Regions from separate parts of the Homo sapiens genome. Here region 2 is linked to region 1. The links come from fine-mapping of genetic effects on gene expression. A gene starts in region 1. The other region holds a variant in brackets. All regions are shown on one strand. Distances are between the middles of the regions.

What was found. PIP is the estimated chance that this variant, and not a neighbour inherited with it, causes the effect.
Region 2: its variant is the best candidate, but not a certain one, in a credible set for the expression of RBM28 in whole blood (INTERVAL, PIP 0.64).

What each region holds. Positions count from the first base shown.
Region 1 is chr7:128,339,131-128,348,401 of GRCh38, forward strand. RBM28 (RNA binding motif protein 28) reads right to left here and starts at 4,778. Exons shown (of 19, transcript NM_018077.3): 1 at 4,546-4,778; 2 at 503-661; 3 at 97-191. The coding sequence starts at 4,663. It also overlaps the pseudogene RNU7-27P. RefSeq lists enhancers at 4,719-4,918, 8,615-8,694.
Region 2 is chr7:128,309,253-128,318,523 of GRCh38, forward strand. RBM28 (RNA binding motif protein 28) reads right to left here. Exons shown (of 19, transcript NM_018077.3): 15 at 8,705-8,854; 16 at 8,407-8,481; 17 at 5,512-5,768; 18 at 3,923-4,022; 19 at 1-1,679. The coding sequence ends at 1,545. Among named protein-coding and RNA genes, the nearest start is that of RBM28, 30 kb to the right of the region's middle. The variant G/A (reference allele first, on the strand shown) is at 4,860.

The DNA of each region.
Region 1 (9,271 bases):
CCAATTATACCATCTTGGTGAGGAGTTCTACTAATGATCACATCTTGGCTCTAAAAGCCTTCAAAACATGCAATGTTCATTTTCTCTCTCACTTACCTTAAAGCTCAGGTTCCGAATAATTAATCTGGCTTTCTTATCTGCCACTTTGGCTTTTTTAGCCTTCGGCTCCTTCTTTGGGCACTCTGAGTTTTCTAAAAAATAAGAGGTAATGGAATAAGTACTCGAAAATCACCCACTTCTACGCCAGAACATCACAGAAAAAAAAGCTACTGGCGACAGATGGCATTTACCACAGGGTTAAGTGTGGCAATAATACCAAGGAATACCAGATTTTTCCAAAGAACTAAAATGAGTATCACAATACACTGGATGATTTTGGAGATCAAAAAGAAATGCAAAAAGCTTTAAGTTCTAGAAGCTACCTCCATGCCTCCCTCTTTCATTTTCATAGTGCTCCTCCTCACCCTGGGAGAAAAACTTCCTTCAATTACTAGAAACTCACCATTTTTCCCCTTTTCCTTTGTCTTGTTCCTCAGTTTTTTCTTGGCAACAGTCACGTTGATCTTGCAACCTTCAAAGGTGGTAATCTCCTTGAGGGCCCTCTGAACATCTTCCAGCATTGAAAAAGTGACATAGCCAAAGCCTCGACATGCCTTACTCCCTGGAATAATGGAGTGGGGAGGGAGTGGAGGGGCAGTGTGAAAAGGAGAGAGAATCATAAGCCAAGAGCACTAAATGAGTAAATCCTCAAAGCCTAAGCTAGAGGATATACTGCCAACCCATCTTGCTATCAGTTTGCCAAAAGTCTCAGGAGGGCGAGAAACAAGGGTGGTATCAGTGGTTCCCTCCCCACTTTGCTTAGAAACTGTTAGCCTTCCTCCTCTTTTAATTTAGTGTCTTTGCTGTTAGCTCCCCTTCTTCCCCCTTTCTTGATAATCCCAAGAAAACAGAGAATCCATGACATATGAGGCCCTCAAAGAACTCAACATCAAAAAGAACAAAACATCACCAAAGAAGGCAGGAAAGGTAAGTATATGCTATGGTTTGAATGTGTCCCCCAAATTTCATGTGTTGGAAACTTAATCCCCAATGTAGCAGTATTGAAAGGTGGAGTCTTTAAGAGGTGACTGGATCAGAGGACTCTGTCTTCAGGAATGGATTAATCAATTTATGGATTAATGGGTTAATAGATTAATGGGCTATCATGAGAGTGGAGCTGGGGGCTTTATAAGAAGAGGAAGAGAGACCTGAGCAAGCACATTAGCATGCTCAGCCCCCTCGCCATGACACCCTGCACTGTCTGGGCATTTTGCAGAGTCCCCACCAACAAGAAGGCTCTCACCAGATACAGCCACTAAACTTTGGACTTCTCAGCCTCCAGAACTTAAGAAATAAATTTTTCTTTACAAAGTACCTAGTTTCAGGTATTCTCTTATAAGCAACAGAAAATGAATTAAGACAGTATGGTAGCTTCAAAAATCAGAACACAATAATGCAGTTACTCCTCAAAATAGATCAGCAATAAATGCCTGAGGCCCAGACAAAAGAACCTCAAACAATAAATACTGCTCAGAGAGACTGCAGATGTTATGACCACTATTACCAACGCCTTAGCTGTCGATATCAAATTAAACCTTTCCAAAGCAGCTGTGCATTCTTGTCTCATTTTATCTTTAGAACACCTCAAAATAGGTAAAGCAAATATTATCACCCCTTCTTTCCAAGTAAGTAATTTGAGATGGAAGACAGTAAGTGAATTGGTTAATGTCACACAGGGTGTTAGTAGCTGAATTAACTCCTCCTCACCAGCCCCCATGTTCTTCCATAGGACTCCACAAAGAATAATATTAGGACCAAGGAGATGAAAACTACAAATATCAACTGTAACCCACCTTTGCCCTTTTTGGTTTAACATTTTGTATAGTAAAATTTTAAATAATTTATTGCATCAAAAAGGAAAAGGACAGATCAAGAAGTCTGCCTTTACCTGAAAAGGACACATAGTTCATATGCTCTGCTTCTCTTTCCACTGCATTTGAATCTCCTTCAGGGTATAAGCCCTTTGACACAGGACACTGATCTACATAAACTGGTTAAAGCAACATAACATCAATTTTTCTCTTCTCTTGAACTCCTTATCATAAAAGCTGCCCACTCACCTTTCAGAAAATGAGCACAAGAAAATTCATAGCCCTTCATGATCAGTACAACCAAAAGTAAAGCAGCTGAAATGTAAAAGAGTTTGACACCCAAATGAAAGGACATACAGTAAATACCACACATTTTACATGTCTGCATAAAGCATGCTCACATACATTTAGAGTCCCTGACAACCCTGTGAAATTATTCCCATCTTAAAGAGGTGAAGTGACATGCACTGCTATTGAGGAAGACTTCATTCCACATACCCTCCCTCCCGTTTCACTGAGTGCAGCACTCTTTCCAGTACATATCAGCTGTCTGGATAGGAAAGTGCATAGTTTTTTAAAAGGAAGTAAGAGATTTTTAAGGATTTAGACCAAGTACACAAGGTGTAAGGTAAGATTGCATGTAGCCTATATTCTGAGGACTCAAAGGAGAACTCCCATTCAATGGCCTATTCTTCCCTGGAATACAACCACCTGGGTACGGAATGCTACTTACACTGGAACCCAGTACATACATATATTCTTTATTTAAAACTTAAAAGTTTTACAAATACTTATCCTTTACCATATATGGACGTACTCCTATACTATTTAATTTTTTAAGAACTCTAGGCCAGGCGTGGTGGCACATGCCTGTAATCCCAGTGCTTTGGGAGGCCAAGGCAGGAGGATCATTTGAAACCAGCCTGGACAACGTAGTGAGACCCTGTCTCTACAAAAAATATTCAAAAATTGGCCAGGCATGGTGAAGCACGTCTGTAGTCATAGCTACTTGGGAGGCTGAAGTAGGAGGATTGCTTGAGCCCAGGAGTTTAAGGTTACATTGAGCTGTGATCGCACCACTGCACTCCAACTGTCAACAGGGTTGACAGAGCAAGACCCTGTTTCTAAAACACAACAAAACAAACTCTAGTCATGACCCACTCAAGACCCACTAATAGGTAATAATCTGCAGTTTAATAAACATTACTGTACAGGACTTTCGGTCCCTATTTTAAGTACATAAGCTTTTGTCCTATTCTCCAACAGTCTATTGGCAACACACCAGCCAGAGAGAGAATCTTTCAAAACGAATGCCAGATCACACTTACTGCTCTCTGCTTAAAATCAGTGGCTTCCTATCTCTGAGTAAAAGCCAAAGTCCTTGCAATGGTCTATAACATCCTACATGAGGCGGGCGGATCACCTGAGGTCTCGAGTTCCAGACAACCCTGGCCAACATAGCGAAACCCCGTCTCTACTAAAAATACAAAAATTAGCCAGGTGTAGTGACACTCGCCTGTAATCCCAGCTACTTGGGAGGCTGAGGCAGGAGAATGGGTTGAACCAGGAGGCAGAGGTTGCAGTGAGCGGAGATCGTGGCACTGCACTCCCGCCTGGGCGACAGAGCAAGACGCAGTCTTTAAAAAAAAAAAAAAATCTTACATGATCTGCTACTCTAGATCTCATCTCCTAATTCTCTTCCCTTTACTCACTTCAATCCAGTCACCCTGTCCTCCTTACTACTCCTCCAATATACCAAAAACACCTCTGTTTCAGTACCTTTGAGCTTGCTGTTTTCTCTTCCTGAATTGTTCTTCCTCCGGAGAGGCATGTGTTCACTCTCTCACCTCAGTCCGTCCTTCTCTGGCCACCCTATCTATATTGCCACTCTTCACCCCCTCTCCCCACTATACACATGCACATAGACTTCCTAACCCCTTTCCCTGGCTTATTTTTCTCCTTAGCATTTGACATCATTTTCACGGTTGGCTTGTTTATTGGCTCGTTTATTGGCTCTCTTCCCCACCTTGAAGACATAAAATCAAAGATTTTTTTGGTTTGGTGTTGTGCACTGCTGCATCCCCAGGACCTACAACACTTCCTGGCACACAGTAGGTATTAAGTATTTGCTGAATAAATGAATGAACAAGTGGATAGCATCCTGGCTAAGATGTCCAGGTCTGAGGATCAAATCGGGGGTCCACTACTTAACAGCCGTACAAACTTAAAGTTACTAAATTCCCCTAAATCCCGGATTCCTGTCTGTAAAATGACATTAAGACTCTCCATCCGGTAAGATTGCTGAGAAAATTAAATGAGATAACCTGTATCAAACTGATCACTGTACCTGCCAATCAGGTGACTCTCAATAAGTCTTACTGATGCTCTAGTTAACTATTTTCATTTTTAGCGCGCATAATCAACAGAAAGCGCTATAGAAACGTAAGGGAATGCTTTGCCCTTCATAAACTGACTCCTATGAACGCATCTAAAGCAGAATCAGTTTGGAAAAGAAACTCAGTTCCCTGTCCCTTCTCTTCGGGGAGGGTAAAGAATGATACGGCTCCCTGAAGTTTGGGAAGGTGCCCTCGATCGCAGGAAACCCCAGCCCTATCCTCGACCGCCCCGCCCCTACCTTTTTCAGTCACCACGAAGCACTGCTTCACCGGCCCCACCTGACTGAACAGTTCCTCCAGCTGCTCACTGCGGGCCGAGGGCGGGAGGCGGCCCACAAATAAGGTCAGGCCGGCCATGAGACCGGGAAACCCAAAGCGCGTGAGGACGCGAGCAAACTAGGCCGGCGCACGCGAGCCGAAACGCTGGCTTTGGTAGGACAACCAAGCTCACACGCCGAGAGATTCCGGAAGTGCTCGTTGCCCAAAAGAGACCGGAGGAAAACATGGTCGGGAGGGGGATAAAAGGTTCCGGAATGAAAAAATAATGGCGCCCCGGGGCGTAGCTTCTGGAGCGGGGCTCCGCCCCCTGCCCTAGCATCGCCCTCGCCACTTTTGTGTAAACTTGGCATCAATAATTTCTACCCTAGTGTTACAGCTTTTTTAGAATTTGCCTAGCAGGCTTTCTGGTTTTTGCCGGAAGGCCTCCAAAAAGTAATTTTTTTTCTTAATATACAAAATAAAAATAAATAATTTCTACCCTGTTTAAAAATCTCACCTCCAGATCCTCCCCAAAGTTAGCAGGACAGGCAGAAGAAGTCGTTTTTGCCCCGGGCGTAACTCAGGATCTGATATACTGTGGGTGTTTGATATTTTCTGAAGTGCCTCCACAAATTCCCAGATTACGTGCATAAAACACAACCGGAACACTAACACGTAGACATAGATATATCATATACATCATTCGGACGATTCTCATTTTCGGAGAACACCAGCTGTCTGTCACCTCAGCCTCACAAACAAATTGTAGCTACTAAAATACACATAGACACAGATAGTACACAATTATTATTTCAATAAATATATACTGAGCTCTAACTATGAGCCAAGCATTAGGGATAAAACTGGTGAGCAAAGAAATGACAGGGTCCCTGCCCTCATAGAGATTACAGTCTAATGGTGGAAACAGATTTTTTTTTTTGACAGGGCCTCACTTTATCAACCAGGCCGGAGTGCACTGGCACGATCTCGGCTTACTGCAGCCTCGACCTCCCAGGTTCAAGCAGTCCTCCTGCCTCAGCCTCCTGAGTAGCTGGAACTACAGGTGCACCACCACACCCGGCTAATTTTTGTATTTTTTGCAGAGACAGGGTTTCACCATGTTGCCCAGGCTGGTCTCAAACTCCTGAGCTCAATTAGCCCCCCTTAGCCTCCTAAAGTGCTAGGATTATAGGTGTGAACCACCACACCTGGCTGGGAAGACTATTAGTCCAAAAATTCTTACAAATAAATCACAGCACACACACTGCAGGACCACATCAAACACACTCAAAGCAAACATAACATCCAACTTATACACAGAGACCTAGAACCCATGTCCTCCTAGAAACAGAAGATCTTTGTCTCAAGTCAGCTCATCAGACAGACCCAAAGCTGAGAGCTCTTAATTGGCTAGGAAATCTGGGTGCTCCTGGTTCTGGAACACAGAGAGTGTTTGCCATGCCACTGGGCTCAGGACCTGAATAGGTGCAAGAGAGCTACACCTTGCAGAACAACTAGCTCAAAAAAAAGTACCCAAGGCCATTTTTTAAATAATTTTTTTTTTAGCAGACTCTTGCTCTGTCACCCAACTTGGGGTGCAGTGGCACCATCATGGCTCACTGCAGCCTTGATCTCCTGGGCTCAAGCAATACTGCCACCTCAGCCTCCTGAGAAGCTAGGACCACAAGTGTGTACCACCATGCCTGGCCAATTTATTTATTTTTTTGTACAGACAGTTCTCCCTGTGTTGCCCAGGCTAGTCTTGAACTCCTGGGATAAACCAATCCTCCCACTACGGCCTCCCAAAGTGTTGGGATTATAGGCGTGAGCCACTGAGCCCAGCCAAATCATTACTTTTAAATGATAGTAACATGGCAGATAGAAAACTCAAAAACTTTACAGTTTTAGTACCTTTTATAAGGCACTATGGTGAAAATTAAGTTTCATGATCTCCTCAAGCCCCATTCACTTTCAATACATTTTGGATGGCTAGACGACTGGTTGATAGTGATGGGAGTGGAGATTAGGGGGACGCTAAACATCACATTTATGGAGCTCTAGTTCGAAGTAAGTAATCTATGCTTAAAATAAAACTTCACGATTATTTTTTAAAAATACAACTCACGGCCAGGAGCGGCCGTGATCCCAGCACTTTGGGAGGCCGAGGTGGGTGGATCACCAGATCAAGGGTTCGAGACCAGCCTGGCCAACATGGTGAAACCCCGTCTCTACTAAAAATACAAAAAGTAGCCGGGCATGGTGGCACATGCCTGTAATCCCAGCTACTCGGGAGGCTGAGGCAGGAGAATCGCTTGAACTCAGGAGGCAGAGGTTGCAGTGAGCCGAGATTGCACCACTGCACTCCAGCCTGGGCAACAAAGGAAGACTCCATCTCAAAAAAATATATAACTCACTTTGGGAGATCAAGATGGGTAGATCACTGGAACTCAGGAGTTCGAGACTTCTGAAAATAAAATACAAGTTTATTTTTCTTTTTTTCTGAGCAGAGTCTCGCTCTGTCACCCAGGCTGGAATGCAGTGGTGCGATCTCGGTTCACTGCAACCTACACCTCCTAGGTTCAAGCAATTCTCCTGCCTCAGCCTCCTGAGTAGATGAGATTACAGGCACCCACCACCATGCCTGGCTAATTTTTGTATTTTCAGTAAAGACAGAGTTTCACCAACTTGGCCAGGCTGGTCTTGAACTCCTGACCTCAAGTGATCAGCCGTCATCGGCCTCCCAAAGTGCTGGGATAACAGGCATGAGCCACCATACCCAGCCTAAACTTTATTTTTCAACATTAGCTCCATCAAGTTCAAAACACATTTGTAAGCAATGATACCAGCCACTTAGTCCATCTCTAAAGAACTTAAGGTCTTTGGAATTTAAGCATGTCAATGCAGTCTCTCTCTCTCTCTCTCTCTCTCTCTCTCTCTCTCTCTCTCTCTCTCTCTCTCTATATATATATATATATATATATATATATATATATATATATATATATATAATTGAAGAAAAATGTGAGCCCCTTAAAGATTTTTTAAGATTAGGAAACAAAACTAAGTCAGAAGGAGCCAAAATAGGACCTTAAGGTGGATGCCTAATGGTTTCCCATTAACACTCTTGAAAAATTGCCCTTGTTTGAGAGAGGAGTGAGCAAGAGCACTGTGATGGAGAAGGGCCCTCTCTGTTGAAGGTTTCCCCTAGGTATTTTTCTGCTAAAGGTTTGGCTAACTTTCTCAGAACCCTCTCACAATAAGCAGATGTTATCATTCTTTGGCCCTCCAGAAAGTCAGACAGAAAAAAAAAAAAATGCCTTGTAGGCCCGGTGTGGTGGCTCATGCCTGTAATCCCAGCACTTTGGGAGGCCAAGGCGGGCGGATCACCTGAGGTTGGGAGTTTGAGACCAGCCTCAGAAACATGATGAAACTCCATCTCTACCGAAAGTACAAAATATTAGCTGGGCTGTGGTGGCATGCACCTGTGGTCTCAGCTACTCTGAGGCTGAGGTGGGAGGATCGCTTGACCTGGGGAGGCGGAGGTTGCAGTGAGCTATCGTGCCACTGCACTGCACTCTGGGTGACAGAGTGAGACCCCATCTCAAAACAATAACAATAAAAATTTAAAAATAAATTTAAAAATATTACTCAGGAAAGGAAGCTTTGAAATACAAAACAGATTTTTAAGGTTGCTATGTTAATCCTATCCAGGATAAAGAGAAACAAACAGATAAAGGCAATGGGATGGATCATGTAACAAAGTTGGTTTGGGACTCCACATCCTCCTCTTCCTTCTCCTTCCCTCCTGCCCACTCCTATCACCTTAGGAATTAAAATTCCACCCCCAAAGATTAAATTGTGAGCTTCAGAACCCCAGCTAAGGGGAAGCCTTCCTAGTCCTGGCTGCAGTCTGTACAAGGAAAACAATCCTGAGAAGATTGTTCCAATATTCCTTTGTGAGACCCTCCACAAATGCTAAGTTTTAAATAGCTCTGATCCAAATCTTCCTTAATTTAGGACAAATCTAACTGTGTCTCTATGCCCATCAGGGGGCAGCAGCCACCCACAGTGCAGGGTTCTGTGCCCTTCTGGGAGGACAACAGTGCAGCTGACCCTTTCTACCCTCCCCACGGTTCAGACCTGGTTCCCCGATCTGTCTCTCAGCCCAATCCCCTCCAATCCATTTATATCAGGGCAGGCAATGGTTCTTTCCTCAGGAATATTTGCTCATCCATCTACCCAAGACACATGCAGCAATCTTTATTAAATAGCAGGTGCTGTGCTACCCTGCATCACACCAGCAATGTGGCTTCCAGGGGAAATAAACTGCTGGCCTCCTCCTCATCCATCACTGTGCAGGAGCCAGGAAAGGAAGTAAGAGAGGCCTGGGCTGTTCTCAGCCAGCCTCTTCCAGATCCCATCCCTCTAGCTCCACTCCCCCTGGCAAGCTAAACCTTCTTATAATACAGAATAGTTCTTGGCCTTAACACTTGTCACAACTATAATTAATTACTTGTGCTATTGTGATTATTTATGTCATTAGTTGTTTAACATCTGCCTTCCCCCAACAGGCTTTCAATTTCGTAAATTCATGGCTGGTGTCTACCTCGTTCACCTGTCTATTCCCAGCACCTAGTACGTCATAGGCATTCAGTAAATATTCTTTAAGAGATTGAATGAATGAATAAATGAATGAATGTGAGTTTG
Region 2 (9,271 bases), 30 kb before region 1:
TCTAACTGGAGAGACAAACAATTTCAGATAGAGATTAGTGCTAGAAAGAGACAAATGATTTCAGATAGAGATTAGTGCTAGAAAGAAACAGGGAAGCAGGCCAGGCGTGGTGGCTCACGCCTGTAATACCAGGACTTTGGGAGGTCGAGGTGGGCGGATCACCTGAGGTCAGGAGTTCAAGACCAGCCTAGTCAACATGGTGAAACCCCATCTCTACTAAAAATACAAAATTTAGCCAAGAATGGTGGCGTGCACCTGTAGTCCCAGCTACTTGGGAGGGTGAGGCGGGAAAGTCGCTTGAACCCGGGAGGTGGAGGTTGCAATGAGCTGAGACAGCGCCATTGCACTCCAGCCTGGGCGACAGAGTGAGACTCCATCTCAAAAAAAAAAAAAAAAGAAGAAGAAACAGGGAAGCAGATTTCAGTAAGGGGGCAAGATAGAGGGGAGGGGAAGAAAAGCCCTACTTTAGATAGTCTGGGAAGAGCTCCAGGAGGAGGCGACAACTAGTGGAGATCTGAGTGACAAGTAAAAGATGCAAGGGAAAAACTCTCCAGGCAAAGGGAACGGATACAAAGGCTCTGAGGTGGTCAAGAGTCAAGAGATGGAAGGAAGGCCTGTGTAGCCAAAAGTGAATGAAGAAGAGAGTGGATAAAGACAAGCAGAGGTGATAGGGCTGAAGAGCCCAGGGAATCAAATGTTATAGGAAGACAAGATTTCAATCAAAGTGAGATGTCAAACCCCTGGAGTTTTTCAGTAGGTGTGAAGCCATCTTAAGGGGCAGACTTAATGAGGATCAAGTGTCCTCATTAAGGAGGACTTAGAGAGCTAGTGGATACGATGAAAAGGGAGGTGCTCTATGAGAGAAATGCAGGTCATCGCTAACCAGGCTAGTGTCTTTAGGCCACTGCAGGCCAATTCAACTGGAAATCCCCTCATCTGACAAACACATAAGTGCTGCTCTCTGTCAGGCCCCACCTCCCCCCATTCTTTTCCAAGTGTCTCCGCCTGCAGCGATTAGGTTAGAAAGCATTTCTCTCTGCTCTCGCTTAGACAGTTCCTGCAGTGTGTAAGACTACAGAGCTGAATTAGGAATGTCAAAGAATGTTCATACATAATAAAGGAGTCACACATATTAGAAATGACGTTGTTACTAAAAAGCCACACAATATCTCATTTAGAGAATATGCTTAACAAAATATACATCTTAAAAATTCAGCACTCCAGAATGCTTTTTCAGGTGTTTCCATTTGAGAAATAAAGAATAAAAATTGGTAATAATTATAGACACAACTTCATACAATAATCTGGATAATATGCAAGAAGCATCATGTTGACTTTCAGATATTTCTCTTTGTGGCTAACGAACCACACATCAAAGGATGGACCAAAGTTCAGATGTACACAGTCCAGGGCACCTCCGAGCACAGTGGCAGTGCCCTTGGGGATTTTCTTTCCCTCAGTGAGAGACACGGGGGATGGGGAGGAGCCCAGGAGTGTCACCAGAAAGTACACAACCCAGCTTCTTACCCAGCCTGCTGCCATCATCAACTATCAAACCATTTGCTCCTCTTTGCAAGAGGTGCTCCTTTAGAAGGTCCCAATAATTTCTGCTTATATTGTTCGACCAGCTGGTTGAAGCGGGTTTCCGTCTTATTTCCCTTAGCTTTTTTCCTAGATACCTACAAATGAAAGGATTAGAAACATAATATAATCAATTTCAAAGACTATATATCACCTTACCCTCAGGCCACCCAAGAGAGAAAGTAAGTGGGACAGAGATCATATCTACCAGAAAGGGGTAGGTTTCTAGAGAGAGACTCTTAGAGAGAAAGGCTCAAACAGAATCATCCACTGGTAAGAAATTAGACCAAGAGTGAGTGCACAGGGAGCAGGGCCTGACTAACCTCCCTGTCTGCTGGGGACTCAGGGGCCTCTCTTACTCTAGCTCCCAAAGGCTCACTTTAGCCTCAAAGCAGATGAGTCAGCACAGAGTCCGGCCATTCTTGCTTGCCTGTTCCCTCCCCAAGAACACTGCTCATGGGATTTCAGAGATCTCTATACTATAGTACGGTATACGTCAGAAACTTCCCAGACACAGATTTCTTGAGTAGGATGGGAAGCTAATGCTGCTTTTACCCTTAAAGGAAAGAGACTAGGGAAGGGGAGAAGCAAGCTTGACTTCAAGTGTTCAAGAATGTAGGACCACCGTTTTCTACTAAAAGGAACTAAGGCTCCTTGGGAAAATGGCTAATGTCAGGACTGGGGAAGAGGTACCTGAGCTGAGCCTGGGACATCCTGCACTAGAAAGCAAGGATACTACCAGACAAATACGCCACATCAGAAAGACTCAGAAGCCAACCTGCAGGGGCTTCTGCCAGCCTTACACAGAGTAAGAATAATGACAGTATTTGAAACACATCAAGCATATGAAAACTCAGGATTTCATAATACTAAAAAATGAGCCAGTATGGCAACAGCTCATTACTCTGAAAACTAACAGAGAGAGAGAAAAAAAAAATCAAGCATTTATCCTGTCTTTCCTACATAAATGATATTTTGTGGTAAGCAAATAATTGACAAAGGAAGATTTTTCTTTCTAGGGTTCTAATTAAAAATGCAAAAGGATAGAAGTTTAAATAATCAGCATTCTGTAACCCATAATGAAATAATGGATCTGGTAACACTCATCAATAACTGCTAAGGCCATTACATGAAAGGCTAATTGGGAACTTCATCAATGGAGGGATAAGGCAGATAATCCTCAAATCTACTGATCAATCCCAGAATCACTAAAAATGGGCAACCAGGTAGTATGTGCCTCAGGCGATATAAGGAAACACACACACCACCTATGAAATACTCTCTTCAAGAAAACTGAACTTGAGGCCAAGCACGGTGGCTCACACCTGTAATCCCAGCACTTTGGGAGGCCGAGGCAGGCGAATCACCTGAGGTCAAGAGTTCAAGGCCAGCCTGGTCAACATGGTGAAACCCCGTCTCTACTAAAATACAAAATTAGCTGGGCATGGTGGCGCATGCCTGTAATTCCAGCTACTCGGGAGGCTACTCCTGGAGGCGGAGGTTGCAGTGAGCCGAGATTGCGCCATTGCACTCCAGCCTAGGCAACAAGAGCAAAACTCCACCTCAAAAAAATTTTTAAAAAAAGAAAACTGAACTTGATCAAGCTACCAGACCGAACTAACTACCAGATGACAGGCAATATGGGGGTGTCACAGAGACAAGTTAAATGACACCACAAAGAAGCAAATGGCTAAATTAAAAATGTAACACAAATGACCTGGTTTCTCCAATAAATGAATAGCATGGAAAAAAGGGTGGTAAGGGAGAATGGATATTAGAGAAGAAAAAAATGATTTAAGAAATTAAAAACCCAAGTATAATGTGGGACTTTGGATCCCGACTCATACTAACCAAGTATAAAAAAATTTTTTTCAGGCAATTTGGCAAATTTTAATATGGATTTAATATATCATTTGTGTAGTAGATGATAAAGGGCTTATTAGTTTCATTAGATATTATAATGGCATAAGGTGTGTGTGTTTAAGGCCTGATCAGTTAGAGATGCACTCTGAGGTTTTTCTGAGCAATATGTTTCATTTTCATATGAGACGCATTTACATGTGAAATGGGCTTTGCTTTAATATACTCTAGTGGGGAAAGCATGTTATGGGGAATATGTAAAACAAGGAGACTGCTGAAACACAGGAACAGATACGTGGAGGTTCATTTTACTTTTTTCTCTCCACTTTTAAGATTGTATAGCTCAACATTCTCTAAAAAGCTACCGTCCTACACAGAAGTCTTTCTTTTTTTCTTTTTTGCTCAACTAACCAAGGTACAAACATGGCTACGACCTGGCAGAACCATGCCATACCAAAGCTGTATGTCCTGCAGAACTCACCTGCTCGGACGATAATTGCTGCTTCTCCTGCTTCCACTGGTTTATCTGTGGCTTTGGCTTTTTGGGATGGACGGGCTTCACTTTGCCTTTGTCCCGCAACCTGAAATAACATGGCTGAGTGTCACCTTGAGTCCTTCTTCTAATTTGACACCCCTAGGTTCTCTTTGTACACTGGCCCTTCCCAAGCCCATGATAAGTGAAGTCATTCTAAAAAGGGATACTGCAACAGACCCTCTGAAAGCTCAACATTTGTATACTTAGGACTGCTTGATGCCAGGAGTTTGAGACCAGCCTATGCAACATAGCAATCCCCCGTCTCTACTACAACGAAATTAAAAAGTCCCAGCTACTCAGGAGGCTGAGGAAGGTGGATTGAGTCCAGGAGTTGAGGTTACAGTGCGCTATGATCATGCCACTGCACTCTAGCCTGGGCAACAGAGCAAGACCCTGTGACATGGTTTGGATCTGTGTCCTTGCTCAAATCTCACGTTGAATTGTAATCCCCAGTGTTGAAGGCTGGGCCTGGTGGGAGGTGACTGGATCATGGGGATGACTCCTTCATGAATGGTTTAGCGCCATCCCCTCAGTGCTGTTCTCGTGACGGTGAATGAGTTACCACAAGATCTGGTTGTTTAAAACACTCCCCCCTGCTCCTGGCCATGTGATGTGCCAGCTCCCACTTCACCTTCCACTATGATTAAGTTTCCTGAGGCCTCCCTAGAAGATGAGCAGCTGCTGTCATGCTTCCTGTACAGCCTGTGGAACCATGAGCCAATTAAGCCTCTTTTCTTTTCTTTTTTTTTTTTGAGACGGAGTCTCGCTCTTTCGCCCAGGCCAGAGTGCAGTGGCGTGATCTCGGCTCACTGCAAGCTCCGCCTCCCGGGTTCACGCCATTCTCCTGCCTCAGCCTCCCCAGTAGCTGGGACTACAGGCGCCC[G/A]CCACCGCACCCAGCTAATTTTTTGTATTTTTAGTAGAGACGGGGTTTCAGCATGTTAACCAGGATGGTCTCGATCTCCTGACCTCGTGATCCACCCGCCTCGGCCTCCCAAAGTGCTGGGATTACAGGCGTGAGCCACCGCGCCCAGCCAAGCCTCTTTTCTTTATAAATTACCCAGTCTCAGGTATTTCTTTATAGCAGTGGAAGAACTGAATAATACACTGTCTCTAAAAATAAAATAAATAAATAAATAAAACCCCATGGATATCTCAAAAACCTTCATTTATTTAACAAATATTTTGTAAAGATTTACTTTTGTAGAGCACTAATCTGCTGTCCCAAACAGAAACTACAACTGAACCTCAAGTATGTGGTCTCAGCTGGCAGAGATGGCCATCTGGACAAGAGGAAGCTCTTCAAAAGAGGAGAAAAGGGGCACAAAAGCCTGCCCTAGGAGGCCCCTCTGCCATTGATCTAAGAGTGACATCTCTGATGGTGTTGAAGACTCGCGTGTTAACCCCATGTGTGGGAATACATAGCACCAAACATCCTTTTCAACCAAACAAATGCCACAAAGAGAAAATAACTCAGCAAAAACAAACCCGCTTAGAACCCACCCACTGTTCTGTGCTTCTGCCCTCCTGCATCTCACCTGATTTTGGGGCCTCGGTGTGAGGGGAGCGCCAGGACCTTTCTTCTCTTCTTTCCATCAGGCAGCTCCACCTGCTCCACTTCAGCCTTGGTCTGGAACCCGGTCCATGAGGTAGAGCCCGCCTTTCTCTTCTGCTCTGGGGGCACCTTGCTTTGTTCCTCTGTGTGGTGTTGAGCTGCCTTCTGTTGCTGGTCTTTTGCAGGCTCTGGTTGCCCCTTCTGAGGCTCACCAGTTGCAGGCTTGGATCTCATTTTTTGCTGCATAAAACAAGAAAATGCCATCTGGTTTCTGGATGAGCTTTGTTTGCTGCAAATACTCAGCAGAAGATGAGCTTTATGTGAGCTAGATGAAAGAAGAGGAATTCTTCCCCCACACAATTGGAGACTAGAGGAAAGTGAATACATGTAGATCACAAGCCCTGCCACAGTAACAGATGGTTACTGGGTGGGGGGCACAAAATAACCATTCCCCTTCCCATAACACAGAAATAAGGGAGAGTGCATGCCCAAAATTCAAAAGTCAGTAGGTGGGACAATTATCAAAGGTGTAACCTATGTAGAAGGAGAATACAAGAAGAAAGCAAGCAACAGAAAAGATAATGAAGTAATAAGGGCTGAGAATTTTTCAAAACTAATGACAGTCACTAAACCACAGATCTAGGAACTCAGAGAAGACCAAATAAGATAAATACTAAACAATTTACAACCAGTCATATCATAGACAAACTGCAGAAAATCAAAGATAAAATCTTGAAAGAAGCCAGACAGGGGAAAAATTTTACCTATAGAGGAACAAGGATGAGATTACATCAAATCTCTCTCTCTTTTGTTTTTAATAGGCACCCTCCCAAACCAGAGTAGATTGAGAGAGATTTCCAAGACTTCTCTTCAGAAACCATGTAAGCAAGAAGGGAGTGAAGTGAGATATTTAATATTTAAATTTTTAAAAGAAAAAAAAATCACCAACCTACAATCCTGTATCCGATAAACTTATCCTTCAAAAGTGAAGGAAAAGACTTACTCAGACAAAAGAAAATGGAGAGAATTTGTTGCCAGTAGACCTGTCTGCAAGAAATGCGAAATAATCTCTTCAGAGAGAAGAAAAATGACATAGGTCAGAAACTGATCGTTTTCAAGAAAGGAAGAACATCAGGAATGGAATAAATGAAGTAAAGACGACAAGAAAAAGATGCTGTGGGAAGGAAGGCATCAAGGAAGTTATAGAAGTATTTGCACTGAAGTGGAAGAAACAGAAGATTCAAGTGAAATTAATGTAATGATAAGTGTGTGTTGTTCTTCCCTTTCACCTTAGAAATCTAGATAGGTACAACGATACAATGAACATTTATTATATGCCTAGTGTGTGCCAGTCTGTTTCCAGGATACAAAAAAATAGTGTCTACCCTTCAGGACTCACAGCCAGGTGGAGATAAGAGATGCATTCACAAATAAACCAAAGTAAAAAAAACTACACAGCTTAAGGAAGTTCATGAAAATCAAGTAAAGAGGGCCTTATATCTTTTGAGAGAGGTGGAGGCATGCAACTTGAAAGAGATCATTTGATCTGCATATGCAAAGTGAGTAGAGGCATTTTTACACAGAAAGAACAGTATGAATATAAATCCAGGCAACAAATAAAGTAATTTGGATGTTAAAAAACAAACTAGGCTGGGCTCAGTGACTCACGCCTGTAATCCCAGCACTTTGGGAGGCTGAGGCAGGTGGATCACTTGAAGTCAGGAGTTCGAGACCAGCCTGGCCAACATGGTGAAACCCTGTCTCTACTAAAAAAATACAAAAATTAGCCGGGTATGGTGGTGTGCACCTGTAGTCCCAGCTACTCAGGAGGCTGAGGCAAGAGAATCACTTGAACCCAGAAGGTGGAGGTTGCAGTGAACTGAGATTGTGCCACTGCACTCCAAACTGAGCGACACAGCAAGACTCCATCTCAAACAGAAAAACAAACAAAACTGGTAGCTTCAGAATCACCTCTGAAACAATGGCTAACAGTAATAAACAATTCTATTATCTGGGGAACAAAGTTGCCTTGAACAATAACCAGATCCCAGATTTTCCAACCTAGGGCCACTGCATTAACCACCAGAATGGCTCGTCTGTTGGTAATCCTCTTGGTATATACCACAAAGACTACAAATGTTTGCTGTATATGCAAGGGAACTTTGCTGTGCAATATCAATGAGAGCTCTAAGAATGACAGAGTCAAGAATAATCTGGCCCTGTATGTCCTGGGGGAAGATGGGTAAGAGAATGAGTACTGACTGCGTGCTGACCATGCAGTATGCTAGACGATGGACATGTATTATCTCATTTAGTCCTCAGCAATCATGTGAGGCAGATGTTGTCCACCCCATTTTACAAACTGAAGTTCAGAGCGGTAATAACTGCCAAGGAACATGCAGCAAAAAGGGCAGAGCCAGAGTATGAGCATGAGTACACGTATTCCTAAAGTCCCTGCTCCACCTTCTATACCACACCAGATTAAAAACAGTACTAAAACTATCAGGCTTCACACTTCTGGAGCCAACTAATAAAAGAAAATATGGAAGAGATAACTGAAATCTACAGGTAATGGGAAACCTTAACCTCAACCATTAATTTTGGCACGTACTATCACCAAACACTGTAAAAAACGGCTGACTGGAAATAACATTGGTCTGCTTCCTCTCTCCTTCCTTTCCCTTCTGCTGTAGAGCTATCAGACATGGGCCAGCAGATAAGAAGATGGCCTGGAGAGGCTTAGGGAACTGGGAGTAAAGGGAACTAGGAGCAAAAAAACCTAACTGAGGGGAGAACTACTCTAAGAGAGCAGAAGCACAAATTGAACAAAATAGAAGAGTTTATGTCCTTAAAAATATGGACCATTTAATTTCTGTACCAAGCTGCGCTGGATCCTTAATTCCTTCATTTTAAGTTTTCTTCGATCTTCTAAAGAGAACTCCACTATTGGTCTCTGTCAGAGGGAGACAGAATGCCATTCATTAGACTTCTTAATCTGTGCATGCAATGAGCTGAGTTTTTCCCCTTCACACATCCTCCCCCAACCCACCTTTTTTTTGTCCACTTGCCACTGTTTCCCACCCCTCAAATGTCAGAGGACACTAGGCATAAAGGAGAAGGCTGGTTTCCTGCAAGTGGTCCTAAGGGAACAAGTCTCCCCAGAGGACAAGGCCTACCTTCAGAGGCCCAAAGATTTCTGGATTGTTGTTGATGAGGCGGAGGGCTTTCAGGGCATGCTCGTGCTCTTGGAACTCCGCAAAGGCGTAGCCCAGGGACTGACCCTTCATGTTCCCATGAACTCCTTTGAGGTCTCGCATCACTCTACACTATGAGTAGAGCAAGAAAAAAATCAGTAATTACAGAATGAGAAGACTTGCCTGACATGAACTGCTTTAATAGAGTCAATAAGAAATCAGGCTATTGGGTGGGCATGGTGGTTCATGCCTGTAATCCTAGCACCTTGGGAGGCCGAGACAGGAGGATTGCTTGAGGCCAGGAGTTTGAGACCAGCCTAGGCAACATGGCAAAACCTTGTCTCTACAAAAAATACAAAAAATTAGCCAGTGTGGTGGCACCTCAGCTACTCAAGAGGCTGAAGCAGGAGGATCACCTGAGCCCGGGGAGGTTGAAGTTACAGTGAGCCATGATGGCACCACTGCACTCCAGCCTGGGCAACAGAGTGAGACCCTGTCTCAAAAAAAAAAAAAAAAAATCAGGTTATTGAAACATAATCTTCATTTATA